Linked DNA regions of Homo sapiens. The protein of the gene in region 1 interacts with the protein of each later gene in a pairwise test. Each region holds a gene or a part of one and is shown on either strand. Other genes may lie near its edges. The genes, in order: RHPN1 and HAP1.

Region 1 (6,347 bases):
CACGGCTGCCCAGGGCCCCACTGGCTTTGCCTCCCCGCCCCCCATGGTGCTGGTGCCCATGGGACTTCCCAGGGCAGTGTGTGTGAGTGGGGTGGGCCAGGGCGGTGGGGCCCAGTGGCTCCTGCCCTGCAGGCCATGCGGACCCCCAGCCGGAATGAGTCGGGCCTGGAGCTGCTCACAGCCTATTACAACCAGCTGTGCTTCCTGGATGCGCGCTTCCTCACCCCTGCCAGGAGCCTCGGGCTCTTCTTCCACTGGTAGGGGCTCTGCGGGCGGAGGCACCCTGGGGAGGGGAGGCCCAGCTGCGGGAACCGTGGGAACTCCACCCAGCCTGACCCAACACTGCAGGTACGACTCGCTTACTGGGGTCCCGGCCCAGCAGCGTGCCCTGGCCTTCGAGAAGGGCAGCGTTCTCTTCAACATCGGTGCCCTCCACACGCAGATTGGGGCGCGCCAGGACCGCTCCTGCACCGAGGGTGCCCGCCGCGCTATGGAGGCCTTCCAGAGGGCCGCTGGTGAGGGCGGCCCGGGCCGCGGTGGGGCACGGCGCGGTGCCAGGGTGTTGCAGAGCCCCTTTTGCAGGGCAGGAGCTGGGGAGTGGTTAGGACATCAGTCCCTCAGGTAGGGGGAGTGAGCACATCAGGTCCATATGTGTCCCAGGAGCATCCCTAGCTGGCCGCCCTGAGTGCTGCATGGGGCAGAGATGGGCAGGTACAGGGCCCTGCCTGTGTGAGCACCCCTCCCTCCGCAGGGGCCTTCAGCCTCCTGAGGGAGAACTTCTCCCATGCGCCGAGCCCAGACATGAGCGCTGCGTCCCTCTGCGCACTGGAGCAGCTCATGATGGCCCAGGCCCAGGAATGTGTGTTTGAGGGCCTCTCACCACCTGCCTCCATGGCCCCCCAAGACTGCCTGGCCCAGCTGCGCCTGGCGCAGGAGGCCGCCCAGGTGAGCTCGGGCACCCGTGTCAGGATGCAGGGGGTGGGGCCGAGCTGGGGTCAGAGCCCAGGTCCAGGCATGCGTGAGCTCTCCCACCTCCTTCCTTGTGTGTCAGCCCCGAGCCAGCTGTTGTCCTGCTCCCTGGGGGGGCTGGTCAGGAACCTGGGGACCCGAGCCTCTGCCTCCAGGGGATGGCACAAAGCAGCAGGAACTGAGGTGCCAGGGAGGCTGCTGGGATGGTGGTCGGAGCAGGTGGAGGCTGGGTAGGGAGAAGCAGGCACCACCTGGAGAGTGGGAGGCCCTCGCGTGCCTGCCACATCCACCGGCAGGTGGCAGCCGAGTACAGGCTAGTGCACCGGACCATGGCCCAGCCACCCGTCCACGACTACGTGCCTGTCTCCTGGACTGCCCTGGTGCATGTCAAGGCCGAGTACTTCCGCTCCCTGGCCCACTACCACGTAGCCATGGCCCTCTGCGACGGCTCCCGTGAGTGCCCACCACACTTGCCCATGGTACTGCCAAGGCCCCCCCGCGCAGGGCTCACAGCCTCTCTGTCCCCCAGCAGCGACCGAGGGAGAGCTCCCCACGCACGAGCAGGTCTTCCTGCAGCCCCCCACCTCCTCTAAGCCCCGAGGCCCTGTGCTGCCGCAGGAGCTGGAGGAGCGCAGGCAGCTTGGTAAGGCGCCCATGGGTGGAGTGCCCTGGGGCTCAGATGGTCACCAACGGTGGCAGGGTGTCCCCCACCACCCTCATGCTGTTTGCCACCTGCTGTCCCCGTGCTGACGAGTTGGGCCACCTACCTATCCCTGGATGGCCTGTGCCTGATGGGTGACGGCCCAGCGCAGGGGCCCCAGGAGTGCTGGGCAGCCTCTGAGCAGGTGGGAGACCACTGGGAGCAGCTCATCCCTGGCCCCTGCTTTGCACGTGGCAGAGCCCTCCTGCACAGCCAGCTCCTCACCCCCGTGGCGCGCACCCCCAACGAAAGTGGCTGTGATGAGCCCCACAGCCCTGGCGTTGCCCACTCCTTCTGCCACGTCCCAGGGCCCACGGGCCCACATGGTGTGTGACATCCCAGTGCCCCGCGTGCAGGCAAGGCACACCTGAAGCGTGCCATCCTGGGGCAGGAGGAGGCGCTGCGGCTGCACGCCCTGTGCCGCGTCCTGCGCGAGGTGGACCTGCTTCGGGCTGTGATCTCCCAGACGCTGCAGCGCTCACTGGCCAAGTATGCGGAGCTCGACCGTGAGGATGACTTCTGTGAGGCTGCCGAGGCCCCGGACATCCAGCGTGAGCAGCCAGGGCCTGTCTGGGTGGCTGCATCCCTGGCCAGGGTGGGGGCCTTCGTCCTGGAGAAAGGGAGGCTGATTGCATTAAAGATGCAGTCACCACGATGAATTAAACAGCAGTAGCACTTTCCAGGCCACGATCACAGGGACCCACAGAGCTGCTGGGCCCTTCAGGGGCCTGGGGGATGACCACGCTCCTCAGCACCTCCCTCCCTGCACTGGCCTCCTACCCTGAGGGGAAGCCCACAGACCCAGGACAGGCATGGCTGGGACTTCAGGGAGGGATTTTGGGAGCCACTTGGGGCAGAGGGGGCCGTGTGTTCAGGGCACACCTGGGGCAGCTCCTCCCACCATTGCAGAGTGGCCAGGCCTGGAGGTCAGAAGCGGGGCCTGTGTGCACTCAGGGTCATGCCCTGCGCCCTGGAAAATCCCCGAGGCAGGTCTCCACAGTCTCCCAGCTTAGCTCTGCTCTTACACCCTCTCAGCTAAGACCCACCAGAAGCCAGAGGCCAGGATGCCACGCCTGTCCCAGGGGAAGGGGCCTGACATCTTCCATCGGCTGGTGAGCACACCCGTCCCCAGGCACCGCCCAGCATGGGCAGCTTGGGCTGTGTGGCTCTGACCAGCACATGGCCTCAGACAGGCCATTGATGGTGGTCCAGCCCTCCCCACCCACCTTGTGGAACCCCACGGTGTCCCTCGGTGCACAGGTTGGATGGATGTGCTAGTCAGGCGGGGTCTCCTCAGTGTGTGGCCCAGCTGGGCCTCTGACCTCTGAGCCCCTGCCAGGGGCCCCTGTCTGTGTTCTCAGCCAAGAACCGGTGGCGGCTGGTGGGGCCCGTCCACCTGACCCGAGGAGAGGGCGGCTTTGGCCTCACGCTTCGGGGAGACTCGCCTGTCCTCATCGCTGCCGTCATTCCAGGGAGCCAGGCCGCGGTAAGGGCCCCGCCGGCCCCCTGAGGCTGAGTCCTTGGTGCCAGCCAGGGTGTCCTGTCCCCACCTCACCGTCCAAGTCTCCCCACAGGCGGCTGGCCTGAAGGAGGGCGACTACATTGTGTCAGTGAATGGGCAGCCATGCAGGTGGTGGAGACACGCGGAGGTGGTGACGGAGCTGAAGGCTGCGGGAGAGGCGGGCGCCAGCCTGCAGGTGGTGTCGCTGCTGCCCAGCTCTAGACTGCCCAGCTTGGTGAGCCCCTGGGGCCCCAGAGGGGCGGTCCCCAGCTTGCTGTCACCACCCTGGCCCTGGGCCTGCCTTGGATGCTTGAGCAACATTGGGAAGGGGAGGTGGGGCTGCAGGTAACCCTCCCTGGGCCGCCTCCTGGGCAGGGGCCACCTGTGCTGTGGCCTCCATCTGGCAGCTCTTGCCCTGACCCCGAGGATGCTGCAGCCCACCCCTCACTGGGCCTCTGTATCCTCAGACTGGAGGCTTCTGGGCCAGGCGCTCCATCCCAGAGGTTTTCTCTACCCAGCATGGCTGACCCAGGGTTGGGTGAAACCCATGGGCCCCTGCTATGTGGCCACCCTGATGGGAGCCCCCAAACAAGCCCCCGACGTGCCAGCCCCTCCCAGGTGGTTCTCACCCCTCCCAGACTGGCTGCAGGTGGGGACAGGCCAGCAGTGGCTGACCACAGTCTGTCTCTGTCCCTGCTGCAGGGGGACCGCCGGCCCGTCCTGCTGGGCCCCAGGGGGCTTCTAAGGAGCCAGAGGGAGCATGGTTGCAAGACCCCGGCATCCACGTGGGCCAGTCCCCGGCCCCTCCTCAACTGGAGCCGAAAGGCCCAGCAGGGCAAGACTGGAGGCTGCCCCCAGCCCTGTGCCCCAGTGAAGCCAGCTCCGCCCTCATCCTTGAAGCACCCAGGGTGGCCGTGAGGGCCAGGATCCCTGCACGCCTCAGCCCTGGCTCCAGCTGGCAGCAAGCACCGAGCATGCCCTCCCCACCCAGAGGACCTCCGGGCAATGCCTGTCCCGCCTCATGCTGGAGGCTGCCTCGGGCACCTGCCTGCCCATTAAAGACTGGTCAGACCTGTCTGAGCCCAGTGATGGGAGCTGTGGCCTCTTCACCCACACACAGAAGGATGCCAGTCCCTCTGTCGGTCTGAGGTCAGCTTCCTGGGGCTGCCCCACCCTGAGGGCTCCTTACAGGGTGCTCCTCACAGCCATCCCATCTGTACCCCCGGGCTCTGTCCACCCTGCTGCTGCCCTGGGCACAGACCCTGAGGTCTCAGTCCTGCCTCCAGCCAAGTTTCTGCCTGGTGCCCAGTGATTCCTGCTGGGCACCCCTTCGCTCACTGCCCCTCCACCATGCAGCAGCCAGACACACCCACAGCACCCGCAGACCTCTAGGCCGGGTCCCAGACATGGCCTTCCCCCAAAATACTTCCTGCTGTCCTGTCTGTGCACAGAGCAAGGGACTCCCCACCTCTGCGCCCTGTGCTGGTCATCATGGGCTCTGTGCTGGTCAACCCAGCAAGTGTCCCGTTTGCCCAGGAGTCCCTGGTGTCGTGGCCCAGGTCTCATGGTGGCCCTAAGCCTGCCAGCCCTGCTGCCCGCCTTGCTGTCCTGCTCTGAGCATGGGTGCCACCCTCCAGCTCCTGGGCGTGTCACTTCTCTCTGAGCCTGGGGCCTGCATGGGCCCCCAGCCCTCCCCAGCCTGCTTGGGCCGCTCCTGCTGGCCTCCACAGGCCGTGAGCTGTCAGTGTCTCAAGCAGGGGAAGTGAGGGCTGCCTCCAGGCCTCCGTGTACTGGGTGGACAATGGCCCCCAAAGGCCGTCGGCAAGAACACCACCTCCAGGACCCCTACAGCAGTGGGCTCAGGACTTGGGCACCAAGAGGAGAGGGTGGGAAGGGCTGCAGAGTCAGGGCTGCACCCAAGAGGAGCCACGGAGCCGGAGCCGGAGCGGAGGCCCCCACCGAGGGCCCCAGGGCCTGGCAGGTTCCGGAAGAGACAGGGCCAGCGGGAGTCATTCCCTGCAGCCACTAGGGGGCAGCCGCCACCCGCTCAGCAGCCCTGGGAGGCGGCACGGGCAGGTGCGCCTTGGGAGGGCTGAGGCAAAGACCCCGGGTAGAAAGGCGGCCCCCAGCTCTGCGAGACCCCTGCCCTCTTGTCCAGTCCCTTCCGAGGGTCCGCAGGTGAGAGCAGCCTGCCCTGCATCCCAGGCTCTGGTTCCAGGGTCCAGGGCCCTGCGCTGCCACCTCCCTCGTGCTTCAGCCAAGAAAATGGGGGTGCAAGTAGGGTGTTTGGGGTCCCAGAGACGCAGGCGCCGCGGCGCGATCTTCCTGGGCAGGAGGGCAGGGCTCCCCAACCTGCCTGAGCCGGGGTGGGGGTCCAGGTCCCCCACTTGCCCTTGTGGGAAAATCCCTGTCTCAGCAGAATGGGCCAAGGTCACGCAGGTCTCCCCAGCACGTGTTAATTTGGTTAATAAAACTGTGGATCAAGGAGGCCAGTAGGCACTAACTGGGGATGACAGGGTGGCAGCCCTGTCTGGGAAGTGCAGGGACTCCCCACCTCCTGTGGCCTGTCGAGACCCAAGCTGGGGACAGAGCTGCCACCTGCCTCCTGCATGGTGGGCGCCAGGCCACCATAGCCTGGGGGAGGGGGCTTTTGCCCAGAGAGCACGCCTCTCCCCACCGCAGACCCCTGGGGTGCGCCCAACCCGTCCCACCCCTGCCCACACATGCCTCTCCCCTGGCTGCCACCAAGCCTGGGCCTGTGCTCCTGGCCCTGCCCTCTGCCCCAGGCCATCTCCTCCCCTGCTGCCCCCCCCCCCGCCGTCGTGTCCCTCTGCCACAGAGGGGGGGCCTCACAGCTGAAGCCACACGTGGCTGGGACCTGGCTCCCGTCACCGCCTCCGTCCTGTGAAGTGGAGGAAGCCTGGTGCACAGGGGTGCTGTGGCGATGTGGGGGGCCCTGAGGTCCTGCTGCCAGCCAGGGGGAGGGGGGCGGAGGTCCTGGGATCTGGGGTCCAGAGTTCTAGTCAAGGCAGGGCTGGGCAGGAGGGGGGTCCCCCTCCCCACCTTCCACTTGGGGCTGCTCTCCAGAAGAGAAAGCGGATGCCTACCAGCCCAGCCCCTCAGACTTGGACCATGCCCCTCCGGCATCTGTGGGAGTCCTGCCAGACAGCCCCTGGG
Region 2 (2,504 bases), on another chromosome or scaffold:
CTGTGCTTATTTGCATGGACTTTGCATATCATTTGCATAGACACCTCTGATCCCCTTCAGTGGGAACCGTAGTGTCAGTGCTCATTTATGTGGCATTTGCTTAGGATTCCAGATCTCCATCCACTTTTCTCCTGGGGGCTGGGCTGGGGGTTAGGGCTGGGACTGTGCCCCCACACTGCGCCTCAGCTTCCCATCTCTGCCCGCTTGCTTCCCCTGCCCCCAACCCCTGCCTCCTCTATCCCCCAGGCTCTCCAACTCTGCAGCAGTGGCAGCAGCAGTCAAAACAAACACGGGGGGCGGTGGGTGGGATGGTGGAGCAGCCCGGGGGCTGACCCAGGCTGGAGGACAGGGCCAGCCACCCTCCCACGGCCTGGGAGGAAGAGAGGCCTTCTGGGACTGCCCAGGCTATGGGGACAAAGGCCTTCACCAGCAAGGGCCACAGTTGGAACAGTCCCCTGGGTGTCAGAAGGTGGGCTAGGGCCTCCTGCAGGGTTGTGGGGTGGAACAGGGTCTCCTCTCCCCAGCCAGAAACCCCAAAGTCTGGGAGCTGCACCTTCCGAGTGCAGGCCATGTGAGCCCTGCCTCTTTAAGGAGCCGCAGGACATGAAAGATGACCTTGTGACACTCATGCACAGCAGCCATTGCACGTGCATCAGCTCCCATCAGCCTCATTCCGTGGCAGGTGATGTGTCCCCATTGGTTAGGTGAGGAGGGTGAGGCTCAGAGAGCTAAGGACACTTGTTTGGGGCCACACAGCCGGGGTAGATCTGAGCCCGTCCTCTCTACTCCTGTGCTGTAGCACCTTCACTGGCCCATCCCTCCCCTCTAGTGCTGTCCTGGTACCCGTCCCAGCCTGTCCCCATTCTCATGGCCCTTTGGTCACTGCCGGGTGGAATAGCACTGGCTTCAGCAGGCGTGTCATGTAAGCTTGTGCAGGTTATAAACTGAACCATGACCTTTATGGCGCATGCAGGGGGCAACCTGCATAATTATCAATGGCGACTTTCCGTGTCCTTCTGATACAGTTGATCAGACCCCTGCCCACCGCCCAGGCCAGGCCTGTGGTCATCAATGCCCCAGTTCACATCCACCTGCTTCTCTTCCAGGCTTTGCTGTTCCCCAGCAGCCTGCAGAGGCCCCACAGACAGCTTGAGGCCCCTCCTTCTGCTGCCTGGCCAAGCCCCACACCCGCAGACCCTCCTTCCCATCCTCTGAAATGGGACCCTGTGTCTGTCACCAGCCCACCCTCTGTGTTCATGAACCTGGGCTGGAGCTTGGGGACCCCTCCCTGCCCCTGGCTTCCTCTTCCATGTTCTGCCCTTTCCCACATGTTGGAGGCTTTTCCAACGTCTTCAGGGACAGGCGGTAGGAACCCCGGCCCTCGCTCTGCAGCTGGTGCAAAAGCTGTGGCTGCCAGGTCTGGGCCACATGGCAGCCCAGGGGGCAGGAGAAGCCCGGGAGAGGCCCACTGGCTACCAGACTCAGCCCTGAGCAGGGAACAGGGCCCAGCTTCCACCGGCAGGGAGTTGTGAGCGCCTTCCCAACAATGTGCCCCTCACCCCTTGATGCCCATGCTAATGGTAGCCACCCTGGTTCTTGTTGACTTGAGGGACCTGGCTGTCTTCCCTGTTCTTCATCCTTTCTTCTCAGTCCCTACCTACTGTTTGTAACCACAAGTGTCTCTGTGTGTGGGTGGGTGAGGGCCCCTCTGCCCAGTGGTGTGTCTCCTCTCCCTCCCTCCCTCTTCTGCCAGTGGCCTGGGGGTGTCCAGGCTCCCATCCGTGGCCCAGCCCCTCTCCCCTCTGTCTTGATCCCCCCCTCCCTGCCCCTGGCTTCCTCTTCCATGTTCTGCCCTTTCCCACACCTTTGTTCCTCAATAGCTGGGGGCTGGGACTGAGGCCTCCTGCAGGTACCTGCCCCCCTTCACACAGCACCTCTCAATCTCCTATTGCTTGTCAGCCTGTGTGCGTGTGGTGCAGGAAATAAAGGATCTATACCCTCCTGGCCCAGCCTCCAGCTGTCTCTCTAGGGAGTGTGTGTGTGCACTTGGCAGGGCGAAGTTGTAGAGAAAGGGTGGATGCTAATATTGAAGTATGTGCCGAGGACTCCTATTAAATACGCCGTTTAATCATAGCAGCAGCTCCTAGAGGGCGGTGGGTGATGTCATAAGTGTCTGTTGGATGGAGAAACTCAGGCCAGAGTAGGTTAAGTGATGCCCTCACCAGCAGATCATGGCTAGTGTGGAGCTGGGATTTGAGCTCATGCTTCCCTGATCCTTTCACCCCAGAGACTGACTCAGTGGCCTGGCTGTGAAAGATAGGATGGGAGAGAGTCACCCACTGTCTTAGGGTGAAGTCCCCAGAGCAGACCTGGAACAGGGTTTAGGAACAAGTATAGTCGCCCTCCGTATCCTCAGGCTCTGCATCCGTGGAGTCAACTAACCACAGATAGAAAATATTTGGGGGAGGCTGGGTGCAGTGGCTCATGCCTGTAATCCTAGCACT

The links.
Region 2: the proteins of RHPN1 (region 1) and HAP1 interact in binary tests that used the Homo sapiens proteins (3 or more experiments, as listed by UniProt).

What each region holds. Positions count from the first base shown.
Region 1 is NC_000008.11:143,378,564-143,384,910, forward strand, and holds the end of RHPN1 (rhophilin-1), read left to right. Parts: intron 1-132; coding exon 133-257; intron 258-348; coding exon 349-515; intron 516-751; coding exon 752-945; intron 946-1,265; coding exon 1,266-1,422; intron 1,423-1,498; coding exon 1,499-1,612; coding exon of another isoform or gene 1,613-1,768; exon of another isoform or gene 1,769-2,025; coding exon 2,026-2,220; intron 2,221-2,704; coding exon 2,705-2,781; intron 2,782-3,008; coding exon 3,009-3,155; intron 3,156-3,243; coding exon 3,244-3,405; intron 3,406-3,872; coding exon 3,873-4,088; 3' UTR 4,089-5,658; downstream 5,659-6,347. UniProt on the Homo sapiens protein: Has no enzymatic activity. May serve as a target for Rho, and interact with some cytoskeletal component upon Rho binding or relay a Rho signal to other molecules.
Region 2 is NC_000017.11:41,722,140-41,724,643, reverse strand, and holds the end of HAP1 (huntingtin-associated protein 1), read left to right. Parts: 3' UTR 1-2,004; downstream 2,005-2,504. UniProt on the Homo sapiens protein: Originally identified as neuronal protein that specifically associates with HTT/huntingtin and the binding is enhanced by an expanded polyglutamine repeat within HTT possibly affecting HAP1 interaction properties.